Linked DNA regions of Homo sapiens. The protein of the gene in region 2 purifies or fractionates together with the protein of the main gene of each other region. This does not show direct contact. Each region holds a gene or a part of one and is shown on either strand. Other genes may lie near its edges.

The links. Proteins that work in one complex are often made in the same cells at the same time.
Region 1: the proteins of LAPTM4A (region 2) and CLCC1 purify together in Homo sapiens (co-immunoprecipitation; one large-scale study listed by IntAct). This does not show direct contact.

The regions. Positions count from the first base shown.
Region 1 is NC_000001.11:108,939,485-108,942,984, reverse strand, and holds part of CLCC1 (chloride channel CLIC-like protein 1 isoform 1 precursor), read left to right. Parts: intron 1-1,486; coding exon 1,487-1,580; intron 1,581-2,842; coding exon 2,843-2,940; intron 2,941-3,202; coding exon 3,203-3,349; intron 3,350-3,500. UniProt on the Homo sapiens protein: Anion-selective channel with Ca(2+)-dependent and voltage-independent gating. Permeable to small monovalent anions with selectivity for bromide > chloride > nitrate > fluoride.
Region 2 is NC_000002.12:20,045,129-20,048,628, forward strand, and holds part of LAPTM4A (lysosomal-associated transmembrane protein 4A), read right to left. Parts: intron 1-3,500. UniProt on the Homo sapiens protein: May function in the transport of nucleosides and/or nucleoside derivatives between the cytosol and the lumen of an intracellular membrane-bound compartment.

The DNA of each region.
Region 1 (3,500 bases), on a different chromosome or scaffold from region 2:
AAGATTGCGCTGCTGCACTCCAGCCTGGACCACAGAGTGAGGTCTGTCTCAAAAACAAGGAAGAAAAAAAAAAGAATAAAGCTATGTGGATACATTTAAAAATTATCATGTAGGTAATTTAGAGTATGTCATTCTATGTCTTTGCTAGAAATGATACCAAAATATTATTTTTTAAAAATTAGGTTATTTTTTGAATAAGTGGTATATTCATGGCAGAGAATTTAGAAAAGGCAGATACAAGGAAATTAATTTTTAAAATAACCTATAATTTTATCACCTAGAGAAAATCTGTCAGTAGTTTAAGGTATTTCTTTCTAGATTTTTCTAGATTTTAATTATCTTTCAAAGTTGGGATCATACTGTATATAGAAATTGGAAAGGACCACTACTGTTCCCATCAACATAGCATAAATAATAATCATTGAAAGAAAATTTTAGATCTTTCTAGCAGAGTGAGTCAAGTAGCCAAGTATTTTCAATGATTTCATCTGGTTAAAGCATTGTGACATTTCCTTAACCTTTTGCTGTAAGTATTATAGTATTTAGAACTAATTATTTACAAATTAAACACAGATTCTGTGTGGAAGGAAAGTTGCTTGAGTATTGTCACCTTAATGATTGTATATTGGTCATTGTACTGGAAATTATCCAGTGCAAAATAGGATATCATCAACTATAAAAGAAAATAAGAAGTAGTCATTTAATTTGTATGGCTAGAACTAATTGTTGTTGTTGTTGCTGTTGTTTTTGAGACAGTCTCACTCTGTCCCCCAGGCTGGAGTGCAGTAGTGAAATCTCGGCTCAATGCAACCTCCACCTCCCGGGTTCAAGCGATTCTCTTGCCTCAGCCTCCTATCTGGGACTACAGGCCCGTGCTATCACGCCTGGCTGAACTAATTTTTAAAAACAATATTTTTAGTAAAGTTTCCCTTTTTCATTATAATTACTTACAGAGAAGGCAATTGTAGTTAGTACTTTATGCTTACTTGTTGCATTAAGGCTGTACTTTTCCATGAACTGGAAATAGCTACTCTTTACAAATAATATGTTTTCCTATAATCCTAGCACTTTGGGAGGCTGAGGCGGGCGGATCACTTGAGGTCAGGAGTTCAAGACCAGCCTGGCCAACATGATGAAACCCCGTCTCTACTAAAAATACAAAAATTAGCTGGGCGTGGTAGCGGGCACCTTTAATCCCAGCTACTCGGGAAGCTGAGGCAGGAGAATCGCTTGAACCCGGGAGGTGGTGGTTGCAGTGAGCCGAGATTGTGCCACCGCACACCAGCGTGGGTGACAGGGCGAGACTCCGTCTCAGGAAAAAAAGAGAAAAAATAGTAATAATAATATGTTTTTTTTTAATTAAAAATTTATAACAGTCTGGTTTGGATGAATGGTAAAGACACTCTTTGAATGAAGGTCTTTTGGATGTGTAGGCCTAACCTTCATAGGTAACGGCCTCTCCTGGTTCCCTTTTGGTGTTGGGCAGCTAGCTTTTGCACAGCATCAGGCTGAAGTCGCCAAGATGGAGCCATTAAACAATGTGTGTGCCAAAAAGATGGACTGGACTGGAAGTATCTGGGGTAAGGTGTTTGTGCACTTGTCCTTATTTTGAATAGAAATTCTGAGAATGAAAGAACATAGAACAAAGAGAATGATAAAATAACAGGAGGCTTTCCATGACTGAATCTTTAATATCAGAAGAACATGCAAGAAGCATTTTAGGTTTAAAACCAGTGACTTTTTATGCTCATCTAAAGTCACAGGGAAGGAATAGAAGTTGTATATATGTTGGCTCTGATATTATCTGTCTTCCTTCATAAGACTGTGTGAAGGATCCTATGCTCGCTTTTGTTCATCTCGTTCTTTGCACAGGGTCTGGCATATTCTCAATAGAAGTTTATTAAACAAGTGAATGAATGTATATATGAATTAATATCCATCTTAAATTTAATGGCCTTATATTGACTTGTGAAATTTTATGTTGTAGCTTTACTTTTTTTTAACTACGGGAAAAATTAGTTTTTTTATTCTTTCACATTTTATAAACATTCTCATGAATGTTCACTACCTTTGGTTGTATGTATCTAGCAATGGGGATGGTTTAATAATGTTCCAAGGCATTTTATAAATGCAAGTCCATGACTGACACGGAATTCTGCAGATGGAATCCAAAATAAATGTTTCTTAAAAAGTTGTGGGAACTAAACCAATTCAGCCTTCCTTCCTGGCTTCAGTGGACAGTGAAATGCCTCCTCTAGCTCAGGCTAGTTTCCCAACGTATATAAGCCTGATTTGGAAAAATTAGAACTAATATTCCACTTTATTTTGTAAACTCCATAAAGAACTGACTTTTTAAATTAAAAATTTACTGAGGTAATTGTGGATTCACACAGTAAGAAATACTACAGAGAGAGCCCGTGTACCCTTTCCCCATTTTCCTCCAGTGGTGACATCTTGCACAGCTTTAATAGTACAATATCAGAGCCAGGATATTGACTTTGATACAATCCACCAGTCTTATTTCGACTTCCCATTTTACCTGTACTCATTTGTGTTTGTGAAGCATTGCTTTTAAAGTGTTTACCTTTTAGACATTTTTATAAAATACAATTTTTTATCTGCATAAAACATGTATAATTTGAATGGATTTTTAAAACATGATTTTGGACATAAGATGAAAAATTTAAAAATCAGCATTACAGGGAGTCTACTTAAAACTTAAGATAATTTAAAACTCATTGGTGGGTGGTCAGGGAGGGTCAAAACCAAAGTAATGTCTTGTTTGGGAATGAAATGCAACATTAAAAGAAATGATCAGTGTTTTGTCTGTTTCTCTAAACAGAATGGTTTAGAAGTTCATGGACCTATAAGGATGACCCATGCCAAAAATACTATGAGCTCTTACTAGTCAACCCTATTTGGTTGGTCCCACCAACAAAGGTATAGCATATATTTTGTAAAAATTACTTAAAGTCAGTCAGAAATCCCTTGTATTTTAAAGAACTTTAGTGTTTGAGTCATTTTGCTAATAAGCGTTTGTCCAAGAAAAAATACTTTTGCACAGTGATTTTCACATTAAAAATGGCACAACAGCATTTTAATTTATGTAACATACTTTCAGCATCAGTACTCAATGAATTTTGATGCATTCTGTACCTTAGTCCTGTGAGGAGAAAATTAAGTTGCTTTTCTCTCGTTTTAGGCACTTGCAGTTACATTCACCACATTTGTAACGGAGCCATTGAAGCATATTGGAAAAGGAACTGGGGAATTTATTAAAGCACTCATGAAGGAAATTCCAGCGCTGCTTCATCTTCCAGTGCTGATAATTATGGCATTAGCCATCCTGGTTAGTATTAATATATTAGCACTGTCGGGCCAGGCGCGGTGGCTCACGCCTGTAATCCCAGCACTTTGGGAGGCCTAGGCGGGCGGATCACGAGGTCAGGAGATCGAGACCATCCTGGCTAACACAGTGAAACCCTGTCTCTACTAAAAAA
Region 2 (3,500 bases):
ATATTTCTAAATTACATGTTTAGCTTTTCAAAAAATACATAAAATTAACTGTAATCTTACAATACAAAATTTCTCTGAAAATATCCAACTATGTACTAACTATTACAAATATTTATTCCTGATTCACTTTTTCCTTTCACTGTATTCAGGAAAGAAAGTTAATAAAAATGTAATTTAAAAAGAATGATTAAGCTGGGGACAGTGGTGTGTGCCTGTAGTCCCAGCTGGTCAGGTGCCTGAGGTGGGAGGATTGTTTGAGCCCAGTTCAAGGCTGCAGTGTGCTATAATCATGCCATTGCACACCAGCACAGGCAACATAGCAAGACCCCATCTCTTTAAAAAAAAAAAAAAAAGATTAAATTATTAACTTCTAAACTTGGCAATATGGAGAGGTATAGAATGCAGCAATATTTTAGCAGCATGGGCTGCGGATTCACCACTCAATGTGTTAACAGTACTGTAAATTTAATCAGTCAAATCAGGTGGTGTGCATTGTTTTTGAAAGCTTCTACATCTTATGTAAGTGTGTACAATAAGAAATCTGTTAGATTTGACTTGTTACAAAATAACTGTATCAGATCCATGGAAGCACAGGGCCTGAAGAGAGGAATTCTTTGTTTTCTTCTTTCACTGCCACACCTATTCCAGAAGATTCTCTGGAGACTTTAAAAAAAAAATCATTTTTCAGTTTTCCCACAGTAATTTGCCCAGAGCCAGTATCTACTGAGATAATAATTAAAACAGTGTGTCTGGTTTAAGGAGGCATCCAGATAAGGGCTTCCCATGCAGAGAAAGCACCCACAGGAGGGTCAATCTACAGAACTAAGCAAAGCCTGTTATCTGATAAAGATCAAAATTGACTATCTTTAAAACGTTTTTTAGCCATAAAAAAGGATTAGTTCATGTCCTTTGCAGGGACATGGATGAAGCTGGAAACCATCATTCTCAGCAAACTATTACAAGGACAGAAAACCAAACACCGCATGTTCTCACTCATAGGTGGGAACTGAACAATGAGAACACTTGGACACAGGGTGGGGAACATCACACACCTACACCAGGGCCTGTCAGCGGGTGGCGGGCTGGGGGAGGGATAGCATTAGGAGAAATAACTAATGTAAATGATGAGTTGATGGGTGCAGCAAACCAACATGGCACATGTATACCTATGCAACAAACCTGCACGCTGTGGACATGTACCCTAGAACTTACAGTATAATTTAAAAAAAAAAAGTTTTTTGTTGTTGTTTACTGTTACATGCAGATACAACTGAGTATTCACAATATTTTTTGGAGGAGACATTCATTCAACAAATGTGTAATGAACACCTCAAATGTTTTAATTAATAAGTTAGCCATCACACACATTTTATTTTGAGACAGGGTCTCATTCTGTCACCCAGGATGGAGAGTAGTTACTGCGATCTAGGCTCACTGCAACCTCTGCCTCCCCGGCTCAAGTGATCCTCCCACTTCAGCCTCCCCTGTAGCTGGGACTACAGGCATGCACCACCACACCATGCCCCGCTAATATATATATGTATGTATGTGTGTGTGTATATATATTTTTATATGTTTTATATATATTTATATATTATATATCTATATATAAATATATATTATATAAATATATATATAATATAATATATAAATATATATATAATATAATATATATTTTTTTTTGGTAGAGAGGGGGTTTCGTCATGTTGCTCAGGCTGGTCTCGAACTCCTGGGCAATCCACCTGCCTTGGCCTCCCAAAATGCTGGGATTACAGGCGTGAGCCACTGCCCTTATAAAGACATCACCCTCTTCCCTCCAGGAGAACATCTTGCTGTAGAGAGAAAAATAAGAGAAAAGGACAATCCTACCAATGTGTACTGAGTACTATTTAATAAGTACATACAAGAAGGATCCAGAAACTTTTGCAGGTGCACCGTGAGAAAAACAGATCCCCCTGGCTAGGAAGTAAAGAAAGCTTGGCTGGGCATGGTAGCTCACGCCTGTAATCCCAGCACTTTGGGAGGCCAAGGCAGGCAGATCATGAGGTCAGGAGATCGAGACAATCCCGGCCAACACGGTGAAACCCCGTCTCTACTAAAATACAAAAAATTAGCCCGACATGGTGGCGGGTGCCTGTAGTCCCAGCTATTTGGGAGGCTGGGGCAGAGGAATCGCTTGAACCTGGGAGGCGGAGGTTGCAGTGAGCCGAGATCGCACCACTGCACTCCAGCCTGGTGACAGAGCAAGACTCTGTCTCAAAAAAGAAAAAAAAAAAAAAAGGCCGGGCGCGGTGGCTCACGCCTGTAATCCCAGCACTTTGGGAGGCCGAGGCGGGTGGATCATGAGGTCAGGAGATCGAGACCATCCTGGCTAACAAGGTGAAACCCCGTCTCTACTAAAAATACAAAAAATTAGCCGGGCGCGGTGGCGGGCGCCTGTAGTCCCAGCTACTCGGGAGGCTGAGGCAGGAGAATGGCGTGAACCCGGGAAGCGGAGCTTGCAGTGAGCCGAGATTGCGCCACTGCGGTCCGCAGTCCGGCCTGGGCGACAGAGCGAGACTCCGTCTCAAAAAAAAAAAAAAAGGAAAGTTTTACCACGAAAACATGTGAGCTAACCATTAAATTATCTGGACTTGGCAAAATGTTGTTAATGGTTGAAGCTGGGTGATGAATAAATGGGAGGTTTTCGTACTACTTCACTACTTTTGTATGTATGAAAATTTCCTTAATAAAATTTTTAGAAAGTGACTTGGGAGGACAGCAACATTTCAGGGAGAAGGAATAGCATATGCAAAGGCAGAGGCACAAAACTTCCTTAGTTTAAGGAAGGAAACTAACAAATATAAACAAGCTATGCTTACTTGAAGTCAGAGGTGAGGGCTAGAAAGGAATAGAGCTTAAGGAAACCTGTTTTTACTTCTCTCCCAGATACAGAACTTCAAACTGTTTATGGTTGAGACACTCATGAAAAATTAGCCATATATTAAGTCTAAGAGATAAAATTATTACAAATGCTCAAAATGTAGTCTTGTAGTGCACACCATTAATCACAAAGTATATCTACTACAGCACACTTTTAAGTCCATTTTCAATTATTCAATAAACATTTGAGTTTATACCTCATAAGAAACTTGTTTAAAATCAACTGGCTTCAAATTCTTCAATAAATGATAGAGAAAACCATTTCAGGAATGCCAGAATTTAAACATGAGCTCATTCTGAAATTTCCTGTTACTTAACCAGGTATGCTTCTTTTCTAGCTAAAATACGAAAGGCTCACACTTCAGGGCTGGTACCTCCGGTGCATATAATAACTGGTTCTGGCTTTCTCTATGTCCCACAGCACTATTTTGTACCATACAATGAATATTTTAGTATATGGTGTTACGATACTTTAACACTAGACCAGTAGAAGCCGTGGCTAGAAAGCAATGAGACTGTATCAGATACAGTCACTGATAGCGAGGGAGAGGGGCTCCCCCAAGTTCCAAATGACACAG